Linked DNA regions of Homo sapiens: regions 1 and 2 are each linked to region 3. Evidence: fine-mapped expression QTL. A gene starts in region 3. Each other region holds a variant in brackets. All regions are shown on one strand. Distances are between the middles of the regions. Region 1 overlaps ERRFI1-DT (ERRFI1 divergent transcript). Region 2 overlaps LOC107984915 (a long non-coding RNA gene). Region 3 holds the start of TNFRSF9 (TNF receptor superfamily member 9).

Region 1 (8,183 bases), 160 kb after region 3:
GATTACAGGCATGAGCCACCACGCCCGGCCTATTAAAGAAATTAAATTTGTAATTTAAAAACTTCTGACTAAAAAGATACCAGGCCCAGATGGCTTCAATGGAGAATTTTATCAAATATTTAAGAAAGAAATAACATCAATCATATGCAAATTTTCAGAAAATAGAGGGAGAAGTAATACTTTCTAACTCATTTTATGAAGCCAGAATTACCATGACAAAATTATTATAATAAAGAAAATTATAGACCAGTATCATAGGTGCAAAATCCATAACAACATATTAACAAATCAAATCCAAAGATATATATATATATATATGGAGGTTAATACCATATAGGGTGTATTCCAGGAATTCAAGATAGATTTAATTTTCCATTTGTTGTTTTTTTTTGAGGCAGAGTCTCACTCTGTCACCCAGGCTGGAGTGCAGTGGCGCAATCTGGGCTCACTGCAACCTCCACCTTCTGGGTTCAATTGATTCTCCTGTCTCAGCCTCTGGAGTAGCCTGGATTACAGGTGCCCGCCACGACACGCAGCTAAGTTTTGTATTTTTAGTAGAGATGGGGTTTCGCCATGTTGGTCAGGCTGGTCTCGAACTCCTGGCCTCAAGTGATCTGCCCACCTCGGCCTCCCAAAGTGCTGGGATTACAGGCATGAATCACAGCACCCTGCCCAAGATTGGTTTAATTTTCAAACTAAATTGATGTAACTCACAGAATAAAGGAGAAAAAATTTCTGATATCTGTGTTGGTGGTCCCTAAGGCCTCCTCCAGATTCGCCTCCTAGAGAGGACTCACGGGCTTCAGGATCTAGTCATGCTCATGGCTAAGATTTATCACAGAGGAAGAACACAAAGTAAAACCAGCGAAGTCAAAAGGCACTTGGGGTGAAGTCTGGTGTGAGTTTCCAAAATTCATTTCCTCGTGCTGAACTCCCTCAGCAATGAGTTGTGACATGCGTGAAATGTTGTCTTCTAAGAAACTTGCAGAGACTCGGAGCCCAGGGTTTTCACAAGGGGCTGGTCACATAGGCGACCTTTGCATGGCACATACCAAAATTCCAGACTCCCCTCAAAAAAGGAAAATAGGTGTTCAGCGTAAACCACATGGTTTGTACCAAACAGGTTAGGCAACGTGAGACTCTCATGAGGCCTGGGAATAACGGGAACCCTCCTAAAATCTAAGTCGCAGATGCCAGCCAAAGGCTAACATTTGCAAACAGGACTTTCTTTATTTTTGATTTTATTATTATTATTATTATTATTATTATTATTATTTTTGTGTGTGTGATGGAGTCTCACTCTGTTGCCCAGGCTGGAGTTCAGTGGTGGGATCTCAGCTCACTGCAACCTCTGCCTTCCGGCTTCAAGTGATTCTTCTGCCTCAGCCTCCCTAGTAGCTGGGATTACAGACGCCTGCCACCACACCCAGATAATTTTTGTATTTTTAGTAGAGATGGGGTTCCACCACATTGGCCAGGCTGGTCTCAAACTCCTGACTTCAAATGATCAGCCCTCCTTGGCCTCCCAAAGAGCTGGAATTACAGGTGTGAGCCACCGCACCTGGCTGCAAACAGGACTTTCAAAGGAGAGCAGTCCCAGCCCTGCCATGTTAACTCTTCTCTACACAGTATCTCAGTAGATGTACCCCGTTCCCCCGAAAAGAAAACACTTCTGAAAAAATTTCATACCCACTCATAAACTCTCAGCAAATTGGTCATAAAAGGGAACTGCCTCAACCTAATGAAGGACAGCTTCAAAAAAACCCTACAGCTAACAATATCCTTAATAGTGAAACACTGCTTTTCCCTGAGATTGGGAAAGGACAAGGATGTCCACGCTCACCTTTGCTATTCAACATGTACTGGAGGTCCTCATTCGTGCAATAAAGCAAGAAAAATAAATAAAACCCACACATATTGGAAAGATGTAAAACTATTTTTACTCACAAGCAACATAATCTTGAACATAAAAAATCCAAAGGAATCTACCAAAATCAAAACAAAACAAAACATGTTATTAGCTATAAAGAGTGAGTTTTTTAAGGTTGAAGGATACAAGGTCAATATTAATTGAAATTTCTATATACAATTGCAAAAAATAGTTAAATTTCTATATGTAATAGTAACAAATTGAAATTCAATTGAGAATTGAATTTTTCAATTTTCAAACAATTGAAAATTCAGATAAAAATACCACTTACAATAGCTTCAAAAATCATGAAGTACTTAGGGATAATCTTAAGAAAATAAGAATAAAACCAATCTATAGAAAACTCTAAAATACTGCTAAGAGAAAATTTAAAATATAGAAATAAATAGGTAGCTAGACCATGCTGTGGATGGGAAGACTCAATATTTTTTTAAATGTCAATTATCTCCAAATTAATTTGTAGAGACCATGCAATGCCAAGTAAAATTTTAGCAAAGCTTTTGTAGCAAATGGTAAACTGCTCTTAAAATTGATGTGGAAACAAAAAGAGCCCACAAAGAACCCAATAAACTTATTTTGAAAATAAAGAACAACATTGGAAAATTCATATTACCTGATTTCTGGATTTAATATTCAGCTTCGGTAATTAAGACGGTGTGGTATCACTACACAAATAGACAGCTCAATAGAACAGAAAAGTGAAAACAGACCCACATATACCTAGTAAATTGATATTTGACAAAGTAGCCAGGATAATTCAGTTGAGGGGAAAGACAGTCTTTTCAACAAATTATGCAGGAAAAACTGGACATCTCCGTGGAAAACAGGAGCCCCGATGTTTATCTCATACCTTACATAAAACTAGCTTGAAATGGATCATACACCTTAACATAAAACTTAGAGATGAATATATAGGAGAAAAATCTTTGTAACCTTGGAATAGGCAAAGATTTCTCAGCTAGATATAAAAAGTATGAACTATAAAAGAATTGAAAATAGACTTCAAAGTTAAAAACTTTTGATTTTGGCAAGACACTGTTAAGAAAATGACAAGGCAGGTCACAGACTGGGAGACAGTATTTTCAGTACAGCAAGCTCATGAAAAGATGCCCCATATCATTAGATATCAGGGAAATACAAACTAAAACCCCATTGGAAGGCTAAAATTTAAGAACATGACAATACCAAGTGCTGGTGAGAATGTGGAACACCTGGAACTATCGTATGTTTACGGTCGTCATTCAACATGGTAAGACCGCTCTGGATAACAGCTCCACCATTTCTTATGAAGTTATATATGTGACTTTATTCCACTCCTAGGCATTTATTCAAGAGAAGTGATAGCACAGGCTCACATAAAGACATTTACCAATAAAGACATTGAGTCTTTATTCATAATAATTGTCAAAGAACCAGAAACAACCCAAATGCCCATCCACAGTGAATGAATACATTGTGACATGTCTATAAAAATGAGATTATTTTGAAATACAAAGGAACAAATTAATGATTCATATGGATGGATTTTAAAAACATGCCCAGTGAAAGAAGCCAGGGTATCTACTGTATGATTCTATTTATATGAAACTCTAGGAAAGACAAAGTGAATCTAGGGCCGGGTGTGGTGGCTCACGTCTGTAATCCCACCACTTTGGGAGGCCAAGGCAGATGGATCACCTGAGGTCAGGAGTTCGAGACCAGCCTGGCCAACATGGTAAAACCCTGTCTCTACTAAAAATACACAAATTAATCGGGCGTGGTGATGGGTGCCTGTAATCCCAGCTACTTGGGAGGCTGAGGCAGGAGAATCACTTGAACACGGGAGGTGGAGGTTGCAGTGAGCTCAGATCGTGTCTCCACACTCCAGCCTGGATAACAGAGTGAGACTCTGTCTCAAAAAAAAAAAAAAAAAAAAAAAAGCAAATCTAGAAGACAGGTCTCTGGTTGCCTTGGGCCAGGAGGGGTTGGTCCAGATTTACCAGGCAGGGACGTAAGGGAACCTTTTAGGGTGATAGAAATGTCCTTTATCTGTTTTTTTTGTGTGTGGGTGGGTTTTTTTTTTTTTTTGAGACGGAGTCTCACTCTGTTGCCCAGGCTGGAGTGCAGTGGCACAATCTAGCTCACTGCAACCTCTGCCTCCCGGATTCAAGTGATTCTCCTGCCTCAGCCTCCC[G/A]AGTAGCTGGGACTACAGGCATGCACCACCACACTCCGCTAATTTTTTAATTTTTAGTAGAGATGGGGTTTCACCATGTTGTCCAGGCTGGTCTCAAGCTCCTGACCTCAGGTGATCCATCTGCCTCAGCCTCCCAAAGTGCTGGGATTACAGGCGTGAGCCACTGTGCTCAGCCAGAAATATTCTATAGCTTAATCGTGATGATGGTTACATGGGTGTACATATTCATCTGTCGAAACTCACGTTGCATACTTAAAGTTTATACATTTTATGGTATGTAAATTATACCTTAATGAGGTTGAGTTTAAACCTCCAGAACTTTTCTCATCTTGCGTGATTGAAACTGTGTGCCCATTAAACAACCCCCCACTCCCTCTTCTGCAGCCGCTGGCAACCACCATTCTACTTTCTGTCTCTATTCATTTGGCTGTTCTCGGTACCTCATGTAGGTGGAATCATACAGTGACTGTCTTTTTGTGACTGCCTTATCTCACTTAGCATAATGTCTACAAGGCTCATCTATTCAAATTTTTTTGAGGGGCCATTATAATGATTTTTTGTAATGCATGGCAGCCTTGCTCCTTGCCATATTGCCGCCCCCTAACCCCACATGAGTCCCAGCTTCAGCAAATGACTCCCATCTGGTGACGTCATTATCCCCATCTTCTGCTCCAATCATTGCCATTCGCCCAGAGTTTAGAAGGGGCTGCAGAATAAGGAAGTGCACGGGCTGGGGAGAAACAGCATGTTAGGTAAGGAGAATTCCCCTTAGACAGAAAGAGGAAACACAAGCCCTTTCACTAGGGACAAAAGTCAAAGCTGACAAGACTGAGATTAAGACATTGCCTAGAGCCCTCAGGTCAACAGAGAGCCCTACTTCCTGCATCCAGTGGTTTACCTTTTTTTTTTTGGACATAAGGTCTTGCTCTGCCACTCAGGCTGGAGTACAGTGAGTGGTGCCATCGCGGCTCACTGCAGCCTTAACCTCCTTGGCTCAAGAGATTCTCCCACTCTGCGTAGCTGGGATCACAGGCACGAGCCACCATGCCTGGCTGATGTTTGTATTTTGGTAGAGATGGGGTTTTGCCACGTTGCCCAGGCTGGTCTCGAGCTCCTGGGCTCAACCATTCCTCCCGCCTAGGCCTCCCAAAGTGCTAGGACTACAGGCATGAGCCACCGTGCCAGGCCACTTGATCTACCTTTTAAGACACACCTTGGCGTGCCTGAAGTCAAACCTTGACACAAAGCTGAGACACGTGTTCCCAATCATCTAACTCCATAGTGTCATTTGCAGATAGAGGTCGTGGCAGCAAGTAATCACAGTTTCTATTGACCATATGGAGGTATGAAGGCAACTGCTTCATTAATTTTTTGAAGCCAGTGATTATTAAGGATGGAATCTGTTATTATTTCAATGTTTATTGAGGACCCATAATGTGCTACACACTTGTTTTGATCACCAAATAAACAGTCTGCAAAAAGCAATATGGCTGTGGTTGCTTCAAATTTCCAGGTCATGGGGACCAGTTGCAAGGGAAGCATGAGTGACTGGATAAATATTAATGAGCATCATGTGGATGAGCATAGGGAACCTATATTTAAGGTAATATAATTTAAACTATATTTAGGAGGAGGATGCTGTCTGAGGTGTTGATTATAACCCAGGAAGGAGATCCGTAGGTCATAGTAACCAAGTCAGACCATGCTGGGGACCATCTGCAGGTGTGTTGGAAACAAAGTATATTTTCATGCTATTGAATGTATATTGGGTGAACCAATGAATAAACGAACAATTTTAGCAAATCACTTGTCTTTCTGGCTCTCAGGACAAACACCAAAATGGCCTTGCTATTAAAATGTAAACCTTTTCTTTCTTCCTGAACCAAGACTCTCAGGCCGTGCAGAGTTTCTGTTCTTAACTTTGGTTTCCTTGGCTGGGCACGGTGGCTCACACCTGTAATCTCAGCACTTCGGGAGGCCGAGGTGGGCAGATCACCTGAGGTCAGGAGTTTGAGACCAGCCTGGCCAACATGGTGAAACCCTGTCTCTAATAAAAATACAAAAATTAGCCAGGTGTGGTGGCGGGCACCTGTAATCCAAGCCACTTGGGAGGCTGAGGCAGAAGAATTGCTTGAACCCGGGAGTCGGAGGTTGCAGTGAGCAGAGATTGCATCACTGTACTCTAGTCTGGGTGACAGAATGAGACTCCGTCTCAAAAAAAAAAAAATTTTTTTTTGGATTCCAGTGTGAGACTCCTTATTAGGAAAAACATTGTTGACTAATACATGGTTATCTAGTCCTGTGGTGACAACCTATTTTTCATGAAGTCAAGTCAGGAAAAAGAAAAAAGATTTTTAAAAAAAGTCCCTATTTAAAATCAGAATAGATTTGAGACCCATAGAAAATATGTAGACTTAAAAAATTTAGATAATCTTATTGACTCAGTAATAAAATGCCTTTGAGAAAAATGGAACTGCATTGCTAACATCAGCTACATCAGTCTGTAGTAAAATGAAAATCTTTTCTAATCTTTTATCCAGAAATTAGATCTTGGCCTGTGTAATGACAAGAATTGGTCTATATGTCCTTCATCACGGATGTGGCCCTTTGTGGCTTAGGTTATTGGCTGTGACTATCACTGGTGAGACGTGCTCCCTGCCTCTTCCCTCACGCCTTCTACCCAAACAGCAGTATAGCTTAAAATAAGGAATTTAATGACTGGTGCAAGATATAATAATACTTTAGCCATATTGTGTATAACATATGTAACCATAATGTATATAACATACACATGAGAATTAAAACATGCTGTAATTAGAAAGATCATTACATTGTTTGTAATTAAATATTTAAGTACATGCCCTGTGTCAAGCGCAGTACAAGCTGTTGGGCAAAAAGGACTAAGCAATAATAAAAAAGACATAATGACGAGTGCCAATGAGGAAGTGGAGAAACTGAAAGCCTTGTACACTGCTGGTGGGATTTTAAGATGGCGCAGCTGCTTTGCAAAGCAGTTTGGCAAGTTCCTCAAACAGCTAAACATGGTGTCACCATATGACCCAGCAATTCCACAACTAATTATGTACCCAAGAGATACGAAAATATATGTCCGTGAAAAACTTGTACACAAATGCTCATAGCGGCATTATTCCTAATAGTAAAAAAGCAGAAACGACCCAAATGTCCATCAGCAGATAAATGGATAAGTAAAATGTCACGTACATCCACACAGGAGTGTTATTTGGCAATAAAAAGCAATAACCACATGCTATGCTGTGGTCTGAATGTCTGTGCCTCTCCCATCCCCCAAAATTCCTATGTTGAAACCTGATCTCCAATGCAAAAGTATTAAGAAGTGGGACATTTAAAGCTGGGCATGGTGGTGTGTGCCTGTAATCCCAGCTACTCGGGAGGCTGAGGCAGGAGAATCGCTTGAACCTGGAAGGCAGAGGTTGCAGTGAGCCGAGATCGCACCACTGCACTCCAGCCTGGGCAACAGAGATACTCCGACTCAAAAAACAAAACAAAACAAAACAAAATTGTACCTAAAATTCCCCATACTTTTAGAAATTTAAAAGTTTCTAAATAATGTAATATAAAATAAAATATCATTATAGAAACAAGGAAGTATTTGAGAGTGAATGAGAAAAATAATTACACATTAGAACTGGAAGAATCTTGCTAAAGCAATAATTAGAGTAAAAATTTTAGCCGTAAATGTTTCTTTATATTAGAAAGGAACTGCTGCTGTTAATTAGTGAGCCAAGCATTCAGTGTAACAAATTGGATTAAGGACTTCGGAATGAATGTGAAGAAAGTAAAAACAAGGGAATACTCAAAATAAAAACAGAAATCAGTGAAATCGATAACAAAGAAATAGAAAGGATTCATAAGGAAAAATGGGTTCTTCGAAAAGACCAAAAAAAGAAACACTCACTTCAGCAAAACTGATCAAGGCCAGAAGAGAGAAGGACCAAGTCAAGCCTGAAATAGGACCCATAAATACAGGCCCAGCAGAGCTCCAAATGATAAGAGGACCCTGTAAACATCTTTAAGACTATCCACTGATAAGTTACCAGA
Region 2 (8,183 bases), 190 kb after region 3:
TTGAAGCTGGGAGGTCGAGGCTTCAGTGAACTGAGATTGCGTCTCTGCACTCCAACCACCTGGGTGACAAACCAAGACCCCCTCTCTCTCTCTCAAAAAAAAGGGGGGGCTATTTTGGCCAGGTGCGGTGGCTCACGCCTGTAATCCCAGCACTTTGGGAGGCTGAGGTGGGCAGATCACTTGAGGTCAGGAGTTCAAGACCAGCCTGGCCAACATGGTGAAACCCCGTCTCTACTAAAAATACAAAAATTAGCCAGACATGGTGGCACGCACCTGTAATCCCAGCTACTCGGGAGGCTGAGACAGGAGAATTGCTTGAACCCAGGAGGCAGAGGTTGCAGTGAGCCAAGATCACACCACTGCACTCCAGCCTGGGTGACAGAGCAAGATCCTGTCTCAAAAAAAAAAAAAAAAAAAAAAGGGACATTTTATTGAAAACTTTTCAAATTCATGAAATGGAGAATAGAAAGATCAAAACTAAACATCTATAACACATCCCAGAGCATTTCTTGGAGCTTAGCTTATCTTGGCTTAGCTGCTTCCTTTATCTCCAGGGCACCCCCGGGGCCCTGACTAGCAGCTTTGTGACCCTCGAAACACACAGAGTGGTTCCACTGTCCCCCTTTGAGTGAGGGGCTTTGGTTTTGGGGTGGGGGCAAGAGGATTTGGTAGGGAATAGCAGGAGGAAAGTGATGATGACGGCTGGGGGGCTTGGGACAGGAGTGGGGAAAGGGATTGAGAAGAGAGCCAGAAATCTAAGCCAATTGCCCACTGTAGTCTAAAAGAATGGTGCTATACTCACAAACACACTGCTGTTTTTTCATTGTGGTGGTTGTTTTTTGAGACAGAGTCTCACTCTATCACCCAGGCTGGAGTGCAGTGGTGCAATCTCAGCTCACTGCAAACTCTGCCTCCCGGATTCAAGCGATTCTCATGCCTCAGCCTCCTGAGTAGCTGGGATTACAGGCGTGAGCCACCACACCCAGCTAATTTTTGTATTTTTAGTAGAGATGGGGTTTCACCGTGTTGGCCAGGCTGGTCTTGAATTCCTAACCTCAGGTAATCTGCCCACCTTGGCCTCCCAAAGTGTTGGGATTACAGGCGTGAGCCACCTGCCCGGCCCACACTGCTGTTTTGACACATGAAAATACTATGGTATCAAAGGGCCACGAGGAAACTACGAGGGTGATGGGTATGTTCACCGACTTGATGGTGGCAAATAGTTTTAGGGGTGAATTCATATGTCAAAAGTATCTACTCACCGTTAAGTGTTTATGTTTGTTTTATTCGATGTCTCAATAAAGCTGTCTATAAAAAACACTAAGGTATACAAGAATGCTAAAGCCTGTATTGCAGTTGCTAAAATGTGTCAAAATATAAACAGGTCTACCTGACACTGGGCTTTCTGTTGGGCATGGGGAGGGCCTGGGTTAGTAATTTATCTATAGGTCATGGGTGGCCTCAAGGATCTGAAAGGCCTCAGGTGAATTATTTTTATGGGGTCTGGCAATTAGTCTAGAGGTCCCCATTTTGTGCATTTAATTAACCCTTGAATGCAGGTGTCAGGGAGGAAAAACGTTGCCTCTACCCTCCTATGTTATATGATTAGGGGTCTGCGAATTAAACTACCAAAAGACAGGCCTGGCACAGTGGCTCACACCTGTAATCCTAGCATTTTGGGAGGCAGAGGTAGGAGGATCATTTGAGCCTAGGAGTTCGAGACCAGCCTGGGCAACATGGTAAGACCCCATCTCTACAAAATATACAAAAATTAGCCAGGTATGGTGGCACACGCCTGCAGTGCCAGCTACTCGGAAGACTGAGGTGGGAGGATAGCTTGAGCTTAAGAGGCGGAGGTTGCAATGAGCCAAGATAGAACCACTGCACTCTGTCTGGATGACAGAGCGAGACCCTGTCTCAAAAAAATGAAATAAAATAAAAGAGCAAAAAAAAAAAAAAAAAAAAACAGGTTAACAGGAGACAAAGCACACAATTTTTATAAACATTTACATGCATAAGAGTTTAAAAAAAAAAAGTGAAACTCAAAGAAGTGGTTAGGCTCAGGAATTTATACCATTTTAACAAAGAAAGGCAGGTTTGAGCTTGGAGAGACAACGGATCGTAGGAAAGTGACTAAGAAGCGTATGGGGACGAATGGGGAGTCAGGCGTTATTTCAGTAAGGGTCTCTTCATGTAGACTCATCTTGGAGCCAACCGCCTCTGGGGATGAGTGCTCTTCTCGTCCTCTGATGGGGGTGCAGGGACACCTTTACGGGGGAAATTGATGCCTGGCTTTCAGGCAGTGAAGGGGAGGGCAGAGAACTGTACTTGCTTGTCGATTCTCAAGTGCCTCCAGCTCAGAATAATCCTTAACGCCAAAGTGTGGTGGCACGCGCCTGCAGTCCCAGCTCCTTGGAAGGCTAAGGTGGGAGGATAGCTTGAGCTTAAAAGGTGGAGGTTGCAATGAGCATCCTATCTTTTAAAATTTTCTTTTAAATTCATTTTAATTTTTTAAATTAAAAATTTTTTTTATTTTTAATATTTATTATATAGAGATGGGATCTCACTGTGTTGCCCAGGCTGGTCTCGAACTCCTGGACTCAAGTGATCTGCCCACCTCAGCTTCTCAAAGTGCTGAGAGCCACTGCACCCGGCCTGGGGATGGCGTATTCTGAGTCCCTTCTCAGGGAAAACCATCAGCAAGTGAACATCACAGAGGGCTCTGTGTCTCTACTCCCCCCTCCCCCCGCCACCCCTGCCATTTTATTGGACTTGACTGTGGGACAAGGAGGTGTGGGAACCTGGGCCAGTCTGCCTTGAGGGTGACTGAGCTGGCACCCCTCTAGGGTTCGGCATTTTGCATATCTCCTCTTCCACGCCCTGGAGTCTCCATCCTCCTCCCTCTCTCTTGCCCTGGGCACCCGCACCTCCCCACAGATCATCTGCATTTCTGACTTCCTCCCTCTGTTCTCCTCCTGAGACTGGGTGCCAGGATCAGCTTTTGCATCTTTTAAAACCATATGCAGTATTTTCCCTCAAAGTTTGTTTCTCTAACGGGTTCACAGTTTTTCTGATTTACTGACTACACACTTTTATGAACACCGATCATTTATTTTTTCCAATACAAAATATTTTCTTCTGCTTAATATTTTCCATATAATATCTCCCTACTTTGAAAAACTTTTAAATAACCTCTTAAAAAAAAAAAGGAGTATGACTCAGAAGCCTTAAAAGCTGTGGCCACCAGCTGAGATCCTAAAATGACCCAACTGTGGAGCAGGGATAGAGTGAAATAAAATAAACCCCTTTCCAAGAAGCTCAGCCCTGGAGAAGAACATTTGTGAACAGAACTGTGGGCCTGTTGCCATTCTCCACCCTTCTGTTTGGGTTGGCCCCCATCCTACACGGTCATCTTCTCTCCTAACCAAAACAATGGCTGAGCTCATGGAGATTTTTACATTTTTCCTAAAAAGAAGTTTTATATCTCAATTAATATTTAAAATTCCAAGTTAGAAGGTACCTTTGGAAAAGTACATT[C/T]TTAGGTCAGAAACCCTGTCCTCTGAACACCACTTAAAATAACTCAACAGCCTGCACGAATCTGAGAATTCCAAGGTCATAGGTTTTTTTTAGCCTTGTTTGTAAGAACAACAAGACCAGCTCACACATGTCCAAGCGTATTACTCACAGTTAAAAGTAATAGTAAGATTTAATTGGTTTTCTTTTTTCTTCTGTGGTGTGTGTCTATTCATCAGCCTCTTGCCGCTCTAAGTTTTTCCTCCCTCCCTTAACCCACATCCTCAAGAAGAATTGAAGAATTTTCCAGTTATGCAATTTTGCCTGCAACTTTGCCTAGTGCTAGTCTGGAGTGGAGGAGGGGGTGGGGGATCTTCAGGTTCTGTTCCATTTCCTTAGCTCCCCCGACTCCGTAATTTGAAATCATGAACATTTTCGAACATACCAGAAACAGAGCAAATAGAACAATGAGCCCATCTTCCAACTCTAACAATCGTTACCATTTTTCAATGTTGTTTTGTTTAGTCTCCACGCTCCAGCCTCTTTCGTTTTGAAGTATTTTAAGCAAACCCTAGAAATAACATAATTTCACCCATAAATGCTTCAGTGTGTACCTACCACAGAGAATGTCTTGCCCCCAGTGTAATGCAATACTGCGATGAAGCTAATGCAATGAACAAAAACCCTTTAATAAGAACTGCTCCAGCCAGAGTGGACCCCAGGCAAGCATCTGGAGGCTGGCTCAGGGCCGTTGCTGGTCAGCAGAGTTGGTGGTCGGGGAGAAGTGGATGGGGACAGGAGAGTGGGGACAAGCTGGACTTCGTTGATACCTGTGTGTGTGTCTGTCATGCATCAAGTCTAAGAACTTTGGAGAGTCACGGCTGATGCTTCACGCAGCCTCCCGAATCCCACGACAGTGCCTCTTTGGGCCACCTCTTCACCCAGAACTCCACAGAGAAAGGGATGTGGAGGAATCTAGCTCCAGCTTCACCACAATGACGTGGTCCAAGCCACCACCACCCTTTCAGGCCCTGTCTGCTTTCCCATTTCCCTGCTTTCTCAATCATGGATTTTTACTGTTGGTTTGTACAGATTCGGAAACAAACAAAACACCAAGGTTGCCGCTGACTGTTCCGTCTCTTTTAATCTGCCACACTTCCTGCTCCATCTTTTCCCATGACATTGTTTCTTGATGTACCTGGGCCGTTTGCCCTGCAGAAATTCCCCATATCCGAATCTGGCCAGTTCTATGCTCCTGGTATAATGGTGGTTGGCTCTCGAGGCTTGATAAGGTTCAAGGTTTTGTTTTTGCTGTTTTGTTTTGTTAGCTTTTTGTTTTGTTTGTTTTGAGACAGGGTCTCGCTCTATTGCCCAGGCTGAAGTGCAGTGGCATGGTCTTAGCTCACTACAACCTCTGCCTCCTGGGGTCAGGTGGTCCTCCCGCCTAAGCTACCTGAGTAGCTGAGATTACAGGATTGCGCCAACATGCCCAGTTCATTTTTGTAGTTTTTTTTAGAGACGGGGTTTCACCATGTTGGCCAGGCTGCTCTCCAGCTCTTCAGCTCAAGTGATCAGCCCTCCTTGGCTTCCCAAAGTGCTGGGACCACTGCGCCCAGCCTGAGGTTCTTAGTTTTTTAACTCCCTTTGGGTTCCAAGTCTTGTCCAGGTCATAGGTGGCTGGGAGAAGCCAGGGAACAGTCAGTGGGCTACCTGGACTTTACTGAGCTTCCTTAACCACTGTGTGTGAATTGTCCCAGGTAGGGAAACTGCATAAATTCCATTGTTACAATTGGCTCTGTATCCACCTTGGAAATAGCTAGCTCAGTGTTTCTTCTTTCGGCTTGATGAATCTTCCACGCCTGGTAGTGCCTGTCTCACTTTAGATACCAACTGTAGTGTTTCAGTTGGATGAATGTCCAGTGGGAAGGAACCACATCTCTCCCCACCCTGTACGACAACTCTAGGTTCTCTGTTTAACAAAGGACATGGAAACTTATGGAAGTGGGACCCCTCTCACCAGGGTGGAAGCAGATGAAACACATTTCAGTGTAGCTTCTAGAGACCCACGGTGGCCTCTCCATGGATTCCCTAATGCGGCCGATTAACATTGTCCATGCGTTTTGCTATGTCCTTTAGCTTGTTTAGCCTGGTCTTATTGTCACAGTTCAAGAAGAACTTGCTCTAGCAATCTGTGACTTTTGTTCAAGATAATTTTTATCAACATTGAACTCTCCTCTTTCTTGAACCAAACTCAGCTTCAGCAAGCCCACATCCTCATCAGGGAAGAGAAGTCAGACTGAGTGCCTCAGTTTCCCCAAGCTCCATCTCTGCCGAAATTCCCACTGTTTTGGAAAGCCTCTTTCTCTGAAGTTGTTTACTCTCCAGCTCTGAACTGATGAGCTTTAGGATGAATGTTTGATACAGAGCTTGATGGGAGGATCATGATCCCACCATGTGATTTTTACATTAATCCTTTAAGATTTTCACTGAAGGCCAGGTGGCTCACGCCTGTAATCCCAGCACTTTGGGAGGCTGAGGCGAGAGCACTGCTTGAGCCCAGGAGTTCGAGACCAGCCTGGGCAACATGTGAAACCCTGTCTCTACAAAAAATACAAAAATTAGCCAGGTATGGTGGTGTGCACCTGTAGTCCCAGCTACTCAGGAGGCTGAAGTGGGAGGATCACTTGAGGTCCAGGAGGTCGAGGCTGCAGTGACCTAGGATCACCCCCACTACACTCTAGACTGGGTGACAGAGTGAGACCCTGTCTCAAAAATAAATAAATAAATAATAAAACAATGATGATATTTTTGAAAAGACCTCATGGATTGGTGAGAACACATCTACAGGCCAGAGCTCCACCAAGTGTGATTTCAAAACCCCAATCTGCCGTTCCACTTGTGTTTTGACAGAAGAATATGTGTTAGAGATAAGACAGAGCTCTCAGGAAGCCAGATCAAGGCTGACAGGGACAGGCGCCTCTCCTATGCACTAGGCTCACCAGTTAGAGTGTAATGGAAGCAAAAGGGAATGTACTAGAAGGGTCTCTTGGACTCATCCAACAGATGTGAGGTTGAGGCACTGAGTTTGAAAAGGGGCGGAAATTGGCCAGGCGCGGTGACCCACACCTGTAATCCCAACACTTTGGGAGGCCGAGGTGGGCAGATCACGAGGTCAGGAGATTGAGACCATCCTGGCTAACATGGTGAAACTCCGTCTCTACTAAAAAAGTAAAAAAAAAATTAGCTGGGCATGGTGGCGGGCACCTGTAGTACCAGCTACTCGGGAGGTTGAGGCAGGAGAACGGCGTGAACCCGGGAGGCGGAGCTTGCAGGGAGCGGAGATCAGGCCACTGCACTCCAGCCTGGGTGACAGAGTGAGACTCCGTCTCAAAAAAAAAAAAGAAAAAAAGGGGTGGAAATCATGTAGTTCCAGAAAGCTAGCAGCTCCGCATTCTTGCTGGGAGGCAGGTGCTTGGATTTGAGATTTCATCGGATTCCCTCAAAGGGGATGAGGGAAATTCATAAAAGGAAATTCAGATGCTCTAAGGATGGAAGAATGGCTAGAAAGCAACTGAAACCCAACAAAAATCCACAGCAGCAGGCAACTCAGACGAGTGTCTGTAATTTAAGTAGAAGGAGAAGCGCCAGCTTTCTTGTATCATGAAAACGTTTACAGTTTCTGGGCTTAGAAGAAAAAAGCCCTAAAACCTTGAGGATAAAGGAATTCATTTTCTAAAATTCAGTTCTATAAACAACACTGTGAAAGGCCAGAGGAAGGTTATCAGATGGGATATTTGTGTTTAATTTCTCAACTTACCACAATCCAGGAGCAGATTTATAGTCATTGGTTGGGAATGTGTCAGCGAGCACCCGAGGTCAGGGAAATGTGGTCTTTTGCATTTTGAAACACAGAACTGTATGTTTCTTCAGCTGCCGATTTACCAGCTCTCCGGAGACAATAGGCTGAGTTCATTTTGGCTGAGGGACACCGTGACTGACCGATTCTCTCTGGTCGCAGAAATCACGGCTTTCCTTGTTCAGGACATCTGACCAGCATTAGGGACTGGTGAGTCAGTCAGCTGTAAAGGATGGTTCCTCCAACTGGGGATCTGAGAGATCAGCAAAAAGGGATTTGGGAGGAAATGAAGTTTGTCATGCTGGGCCAGAGTGGTCATATCATTAGAGGCAGAAAAGTGTCTGCTTCCATTTCTGTTTGTTAAAAATAATTAAACACCTTGGGAGTCTCAGAGAGGTGCTCAGCCCGGAGTCCTTACAGCTGTCCTCAGGTTGCCGGTCCATAGCTGACCCCTACGGAAGCTCATGGACACCTGAAATTCGTTTTCATTTATAAATGTACACCCATAATGAATCTCTGATGAAAGGAAACTTAAGGAACACTGATGACGAAAAGAAAGGCCATCGATGAGAAGAGAATAATAAAATTTCTACAAGTTGGCTGTAACATGAGTTTTCCCAGGCTTTTTGTTTGTTTTGTTTTGGAGACAGGGTCTTGCTCTGTCACCCAGGCTGGAGTGCAGTGGCGCATTTCTGCTCACTTGCAATCTCCACCTTCTGGGTTCAGGTGATCCTCCCACCTCGGCCTCCCGAGTAGCTGGGACCGCAGGCACATGTCACCATGCCTGGCTAATTTTTTGTATTTTTTGTAGAGG
Region 3 (8,153 bases):
CATTTTCATCATTTTGTAACTTTTCCTGTGATGAACTTAATATAAGTCATTACCATAATGCAATCTGCACAAATTGTTCAATAATTCTTGAAACAACACCCTAAGATGGCTAGTTTTTATTTTAATTGTACATAAAGTATTGTATATGTCTGGAACATGTGAAGATTAATGGTTCTGGCAATTAACAAATGTTCTGATTTCAAATTATTTCCATTTATGAAGAAATAACGGAAATATTTTATTAATTGAAATATTTTATTAATTAAAATATGATATATCATATACTCCCTTGTTACTTTAAGGTTCTACAAATCTGTTTGTTTATTTTCAAAGGATCAAGATCAAAGCTAAGTTTGTCTATGTCACAAAACTACACTAGATCAAAGAAACGCAAACGTACCTTTTTTTGTCAGTTCTTGACCTTGTTTACAATCCTGTTCACACATGCTGCATCCTGCCCCCAGGCAGTGAAACCCTGGAGTGCAGTCACACTCTGCATTGCTGGTGGAGGAACACTCCTTCCTGGTCCTGAAAACACCTACAAAGTCCCCCCAGCCCCCAACATTTTATTACACTTGACCTCCAAATCCAGGAAGCGAATTTATGCTCTGCAGTAAAAATCATGCTCACTCTACTTATAGTGTTCCCAGTAATTTTAAAGTTTACTTTTAAATCTCCATAAAGACATTTTTACATTTAGGTAAGTAAAAACTTCTCTCTTGTCAAATGAATGTTTCCTCTAATATTTAGAAAGCTCAGTCCACAAATAATTGCTGTCACTGGATATTATTGTCCTAGACCTGCTGGTTGGCAGAAGAATCAGTCTTTGACACTTGAGATTTTCAAAAGAGAGCAGTTAGTAAATGGGAAAGAAAAGCTTATCTTCCCAACTATCTTCTAGAAGAAGAAAATATCTTTGAACTCATACCTTTACACTGCCTGCATATGTCACAGGTCCTTTGTCCACCTGCGCTGGAGAAACTATTTGGAGGACAGGGACTGCAAATCTGATTCCTGTTATTATCACAGAATGTACCTAAGAAAGGCAGACAATAGTGGTACACGTTTGACAATGGGCAATCGTCACCCAAGGCATTCCGAAGTTTACAATAAAATAAGATTATAAAAGAATGATGAGTTTTCTAGATGCCACAGTGGTGGACATTAGTTTGATTGACTTCCTAAAACAATACATTTGCAAGATTATTCTTTGTGTAATCACAGAATTAGAAATAACAAAATACAGGCCAGGTGCAGTGGCTCACGCCTGTAATCACAGCACTTTGGGAGGCCGAAGCGGGCAGATCACCTGAGGTCAGCAGTTCAAGACCAGCTTGGCCAACATGGTGAAATCCTGTCTCTACTAAAAATACAAAAATTAGCCAGGCGCAGTGGTGCACACCTGTAATCCCAGCTACTCGGGAGGCTGAGGCAGGAGAATTGCTTGAACCTGGGAGGCCAAGGTTGCAGTGAGCTGAGATCGTGCCACTGCACTCCAGCCTGGGCGACAGAGTGAGACTGTGTCTCAAAAAAAAAAAAAAAAACATACACACACAAAAAAAACAAAAAAACCAGATATTGTAACAAATAAATCAACAGAAAGAAAATACTTTATCTATTGAATAAAACAAAATGATTATCTTGATTGATGTAGGAGATGAATATGACTGGATCCAGGAGGACATCAATGTCCTACACTAAAATTTAAATGCGACTGACCGTCCCCACTCTGTTAAGCCCTTTACTACGCGCTTACTCGCTGCTATGCCCCCAGTCGGAGCACAAAGCCCTACACACAAAACTAACATTTATTGAAGTCTTGCCTTGTGCCATGCACTGTTCTAAGCCCTTCATTTGATCCTCCCAGCCATCCTATAAAACAGGTTCTCTTATTATCCCCAGATGAGAAAGTCAAGGCACAAGAGGTTGAATGACTTTGCTGTGTTCACACAGCTAGGTTGTAGCATCCAATAAACATTTGTAAATGAATGAATTTTCATTTTCCTTTCCTTAAAAGGGAGCTCGTTAGCCCTGACTACTAGACTAACTGAACCATACTTCCAACAGAGCAGATCAAATGCACATGATAACTGGGTACTCACCAGCTGGGCAGTTACTACAAGGATCCTGCAATGATCTTGTCCTCTCAAAGTTGAGGACCAGCAACAGAGTGGCTACTATGTTGTAACAGCTGTTTCCCATGATGAAATCTGGCACAGGTATGATACTAGCAAAGCTGATTCCAAGAGAATTTTAATCAAATTAGCTGGTCTCACAAATGTCACTCTGCAAAAGATAAACATTTCCAAGGAAAGGTGGTTTCTCCTTTCAAAATTATCTATATTGCAATCATTACTTATACAATTCTATAAGAGGATAACTCAGGGTTTTTCAGGAACAATTAATGATGCAATATTACGGAAAAGTAGCAGATTCATAGAAACCACTAGGACAAGGCAGGCGTGATTAAACACACAGCTTTGTGCCGGTTTGCCAAAGTTTGAGGGTGCATTTTCCATCATGTTCTGCCAAAATGCAGAAATAACAATAGCAAGAACTTTTGGGGACTTTCATAGGTACTTTGCAGTACCAACCAGCAATAATGCCAATTACTTATTGCCCCTGAAATAAACTCCTTACAAAGAGAATCTGTCAGGGGCATCAGACAATTCAGTTCAAGAAGAAGCTATCACATAATCACTCTTCCCCCTTTAGCTGAACACCTAACTACTAACATGTGGAAAGACCTCCCTGTTCAACTCACTAACACATTTTCTTAAACAGAGACATGTTTTGAGATGTGAAGTTTGTATGGTAACAAAACTAAGGAGTGAAAAACTCTTCAGGCTAAGTTATTGATGTTTATTTAAAGGGCTATTGAAGAGAAGTTATTACATATTAGGAGAAAAAGTCTAGAAATGGGCAAAGGGAGCAAAAGTTCCAATCTCACCCCTTCTCAGTGCCCCCACCCACTCCCCCAGATGGACAGACCTTGAGATCTCAGGGCTGCCGGAGAACTTTCCACTCCTTGGTCTTCAGGCTTCTGCAGCTCGAGAGGACTTCAGGTCAAACACAGGAGTGCGGTGACTCAGCCAGGGGCGGGGTCTCATGGGAAATTCCCACCACAGCTCTGTGACAGCCCTATGAAATCATTCATTTCATATCTGCTGACCCCGAAATCCCCTAGAGCCCCCGTCCCTGCCTGATAATGGCACTTCAAATTGCTTCTTGGAAGCAGCTCTCTACTGTCAGGATGTGTCACAGATGACGCTGGGAAAACGATTTTGTCCCTTAAGATAGCTCTCCAGGACAAAGCATTTAGCATGTCCTTAAAACACTGGATTTGAGATTAGAGGAATGAAACCAAATTCAAAACAGTGATCAGCATTTTGCCATATGCGGTCCCCTAACTCCATAGTCACTGTAATGCAATAGCTGCCATTACTTGAGCACAGCCGATGTGCCAGGCATCAGAGATGCACTGCGGTGAATACACACTATCCTCGAAAGAACCCTAGAACTTGGTATGACTGCTGTTGTTACTGGGAGAACACTATGCAAATGAGGAAAGTGGGGCTGCAAGTGGAATTAGAGCGTCAACAGGACAGGGAGCAGGCAGGGTTGGAACCCAGGTCGGCCTGGTCCCTTATCGTGCTCCTCCGGGCATGGGTGACAGAGGGAGGAAGGAGGGAGAAATGGAGGGAAATGGAAACAGGGGAAGCACAGCAGTCACACGGCAAGTCAATGACCAGGACGTGGTTCGGTGAAGCTGAGAGCTAGGAGGGATTTTTAGAAAACCATGATTTCAATTTTTCTTTAAAAAAAAAAAAAGGAGAAAGAGACCAGGCGCGGTGACTCATGCCTGTAATCCCAACACTTGGGAGGCCGAGGTGGATGGATCATCTGAGGTCAGGAGTTTGACACTAGACTGTCCAACATGGCAAAAACCTGTCTCTACTAAAATTACAAAAATTAGCAGGGAATGGTGGCGGTGGACCCCTTTAATCCCAGCTACTGAGGCTGAGGCAGGAGAATCGCTTGAACCTGGGAAGTAGAGGTTGCAGTGAGCCGAGATTGCGCCACTGCACTCCAGCCACAAAAAAAAAAAAAAAAAGAAGAAGAAGAAGAAGAAGAGGAAGAGGAGGGCAGAGAAAGCAGAAGGAAAAAAAAGTACAGTAAGAGGAGAGGAGGAGTATAAGGAGAAAGAAGAGGGAGAAGAGGAGGAGGAGGAGAAAAATAAAGAGAAAAGGAGGAGGAGGAGGAAGAAGAAAAGAACAGAAAGAGAAGGGGAAGAGGAAGAGGAGAAGGAAGAATGAGGAGGAGAAAGAATGAGACGGAAGAATGAGGAGAAGGAAGAGTGAGGAGGAGAAAGAATGAGAAGGAAGAATGAGGAGAAGGAAAAAGGGGTGTTTCTGGAGGAGGAGGAGGAGGAGGAGGAGGAGGAGGAGGCGGCTGCTCCAGGCTGTAGATGAACCTGCCCATCATTGAGCAGCTGGAGAACCTCAGGAAAACCAGGGGAACTGTGGCTGGGGCAGGCGTGGGCTGGGGAAGGACATCGAGAGTAGCTTGGGCCGTCCTCCTGCCCCGCGGTTCCCAGCACGAGCTCTCCCGACAGAAGAGGAAAACGCGGCGCGACTCGGTTGGGGGACAGCGCTGAGATGCGGACAGATGCGGACGTTCTGCCGCCGCCTGCAGGCAGAGGGACTCGGAGATCAGGCCGCAGAAGCAGAAGAAGGCAGACGGGAAGGAGGAGGAAGGAAAGGAGCCTTGTGGCTTCGTGTCCGACCCTCCCGCCCTTGGCCCGCGTGCCTGGAGCCAGCCCCACCGCGCCCGCGTTTCCTCCCGCGGGACTTCCCTTGGCCCTGGGTCTGCAGCGGGTCCTGCCGAGCTTCCTTCCCTCAGGCAGCCTCTCTCTCCCTGGCCACTCTCGGGGGTGAGGGGGGTTACCGGTTCCCAGTGATTTTTATTCCCTTTGCTCTCTCACGCCTCATGTTCCCCATTCTCCTGCCTCAGTTGTGTAATCTTGAGCAAATTTCTCAACCTCCCTAACTCTGTTTTTGCAAGCACATCTTACAGGTGCAGTGACACCATACATCTTCCTCGTGAGTGAGGATTAAATGAGACGATGAGCATGAAATACTTAGCTCAATGCTTGGCACATAGTTCTCAAGAAAGTAGGAATTGCTATGATCAGACTTACTGGTTTGAAATGTTCCTTCCCTGCCTCCCACACTGACCATCAGTAGAGCCACCACAGGGCAAGTCATGACAGAAAAGGAGAAAAACGCATGAGCTGCCTGCAAAATGTGTTCCCAAATACTGACGGTCATCTGAGAGTTATCTTACCTGTGACATCTGTGGGATCCCTCCTTGCCCCACTTTGGCAGAAATTGGCTGAATGTGAGAGTGTCACACCATAAAAATCGGACTGCTGATCCCCTCCTAACACTTTGAAAGTCACCATCTAACCAAGTAATCTCCTTGTTTACATGTGGTACTCTGTTTAACATTGCAGTGTGACATTTAACTGGGCCATATTTCATTTAACTAAATGCTACTCACTAGTCTACGTTTTGGACATTCTGTAGGCAGAGACATTACTTCCTCTGAAAGTGACATATTTAGTTTCCCAGCACAGTAATTAGCTCACTATTTCAGGCTTTTATGCCAGTAACATAAGAGTCTTTACTGAGCTAAAAGAGTCTCAACATTAGTTTTGCCAGCCCACAGTTAAACAAAGTCAACCACTTCAGAATTCTGCTACTGAAGGCTATGCTCAACTTTACTCAGGCGTTTAAAAAATTCATGGCTGGGAACAGTGGCTCACACCTGTAATCTCAGCACTTAGGGAGGCTGAGGCAGGAGGATCGCTTGAGCCCAAGAGTTCAAGATGACCTGGACAAGATGCCCAGACCCTGTCTCTACAAAAAATACAAAAATTAGCTGGGTGTGGTGGCATGTGCCTGTGGTTCTAACTACTTGGGAGGCTGGGATGGGAGGATTGCTTGAGCCTGGGAGGTCGAGGTTGCAGTCAGCCATGTTTGCACCTGTGCACTCCAGCCTGAGCAACAAAACTAGACTGTCTCAAAAAAAAAAAAAAAAAGAATTCATGTTACTGCATGCATTTTTGTGTGGTATAAAATCATCGTAGTAAGCTAAGTCAAATTATATAGTTAACCAGATATACATACTATCTAAGCTAGCCAAAGGTGTAATACTCTTTTGGTATAATTTTCATTTGCTTTATAACATGTATCATATTGCTTTATCCATTGTAGCCCTGTAATCTTTCAAATGCAACAAAAGCTTTTTCTATTCCATAAAACCATCTCAAACTAAATCAGAGATGACCCCGACAAGACAGCAACACTTTAGCAGTATTAATAATATTAATAATATGTTTCATCCATCCTAAGCAGTATTAATAATCTGTTTCATCACATCCTAAGCATCTCATTCTAAACCAAGAAATAGGCCGGGTGCAGTGGCTCATGCCTATAATCCCAGCACTTTGGGAGGCTGAGGTGGGAGGATCACAAGGTCAGGAGATCGAGACCATCCTGGCTAACATGGTGAAACCCCATCTCTACTAAAAATACAAAAAAAAATTAGCAAGGCGTTGTGGCAGGTGCCTGTAGTCCCAGCTACTCTGGAGGCTGAGGCAGGAGAATGGCGTGAACCCGGGACACGGAGCTTGCAGTGAGCCCAGATCGTGCCACTGCACTCCAGCCTGGGCGACAGGGCGAGACTCCATCTCAAAAAAATAAATAAATAAATAAAATAAAAAAAAAATAAATAAATAAATAAACCAAGAAATAGATTTTATTTCATTTTGATTGACTATAGGTCTAATCTTGAATATCTCAAGCAGCTAAATACTTTGAGGCTAAATAGCATGAAGGCCCAACAATTCTAAACAGGATAAAGGAGACATTTAGAAAGAGAAAGCCCTCAAAATAAGCTTCCTATAAAATATTCTTCCGCCCTTCCAGGGCGCATCTTAGAGGGAATCTCTTCCGTGGGATATTCACTGTTTACACTTGTTTTCTGCCTGAAAGATCTATTCTTTCAAGATTCAGTGTCGCCACCCCTACTCCAAACACCCAAACTAGTAGTCACTATTAGACATACCTGGTGCTTGTGATGTCAGTAGGTGTTCTGAGGCCTGGGAAGGAGTAAATTGTTTTTAAACTTGGAACAAAGAAAATGAGCAGGAAATCAAAGAGGAAGGAGGCAGAGTAAGGAGAAGGAAGTACGAATCATAAGGAGAGGCGGGTGTCAGCAGCCATCGACTTTGCTCACCTTTCCTCCTTGTTCTGCCCTTTCTCCAGGTGGCATCCACTCATATGCTAAGGCTTATCAATAGTTGTCTCCAACTTCAGACCACCCCCAACACTGTGCAGTCCCCAGGACAAGAGTACAAACAGAGGCCTGCTTACCATGTGTCCAAATATTTAGAAATTGTTCATCAATCCAAATACGCTGTTAAGTATGTTCTGTCCAGAGCAGAGACACAAACACACAAACACAATGAACACAGAGCTGCGTCTGTGACTGGGTGTCTGGCGCACGGTGCTGGCATAGGGATGCATTAACTCGGCTCCATCTGCTCTCTGGACCCACACTGCCAGGCCTGGGTGAAGACTCCCCCACATCCCTGGATCCATGTCCTTGAAACTCCATTTGAGGGTGACACCGTGCTGTGAGAGTTGTGAGCTGTGCTGTTGCCTCCAAGAACGGCAGGGAGGGTGTGAGCCATAGAAGTACCAGGCAGACAAAAGGCAAGTAGATTTGTCAAATCCATCTCAGATACCAAGGGTGTAACAGATTCTTGTATAATCTATTATTATGCAAGAATATCACAGACAGTGGTATTTCCCTACAGTCCCAAGTATCCTTTTTTTTTTTTTTTTTGAGACAGGGTCTCACTCTGTCACCCAGGCTGTAGTGCAGTGGTGCAATCTTGGCTCACTGCAGCTTCTGCCTCCAGGGTTCAAGGGATTCTTCTGCCTCAGCCTCCCGAGTAACTGGGACTACAGGTGCGCACCACCTTGCCCAGCTAAGTTTTATATTTTTTTGTAGAAAGGGGTTTTGCCATGTTGCTCAGGCTGGTTATCCACTTGCTTGATCCAATTTATGGCCCACTTGGTGGT

Evidence for each region. PIP is the estimated chance that this variant, and not a neighbour inherited with it, causes the effect.
Region 1: its variant is fine-mapped to the expression of TNFRSF9 in whole blood (TOPMed, PIP above 0.99).
Region 2: its variant is fine-mapped to the expression of TNFRSF9 in whole blood (TOPMed, PIP 0.99).

What each region holds. Positions count from the first base shown.
Region 1 is chr1:8,099,907-8,108,089 of GRCh38, forward strand. All of the region lies in intron 2 of ERRFI1-DT (ERRFI1 divergent transcript), which reads left to right. Among named protein-coding and RNA genes, the nearest start is that of ERRFI1-DT, 78 kb to the left of the region's middle. The variant G/A (reference allele first, on the strand shown) is at 4,104.
Region 2 is chr1:8,130,521-8,138,703 of GRCh38, forward strand. LOC107984915 (a long non-coding RNA gene) reads right to left here. Exons shown (of 3, transcript XR_001737893.1): 2 at 7,331-7,622. Among named protein-coding and RNA genes, the nearest start is that of LINC01714, 74 kb to the right of the region's middle. The variant C/T (reference allele first, on the strand shown) is at 3,538.
Region 3 is chr1:7,937,793-7,945,945 of GRCh38, forward strand. It overlaps TNFRSF9 (TNF receptor superfamily member 9), which reads right to left and starts at 3,047. Exons shown (of 8, transcript NM_001561.6): 1 at 2,992-3,047; 2 at 2,103-2,286; 3 at 929-1,036; 4 at 401-538. The coding sequence starts at 2,202. RefSeq lists a silencer at 4,751-4,890.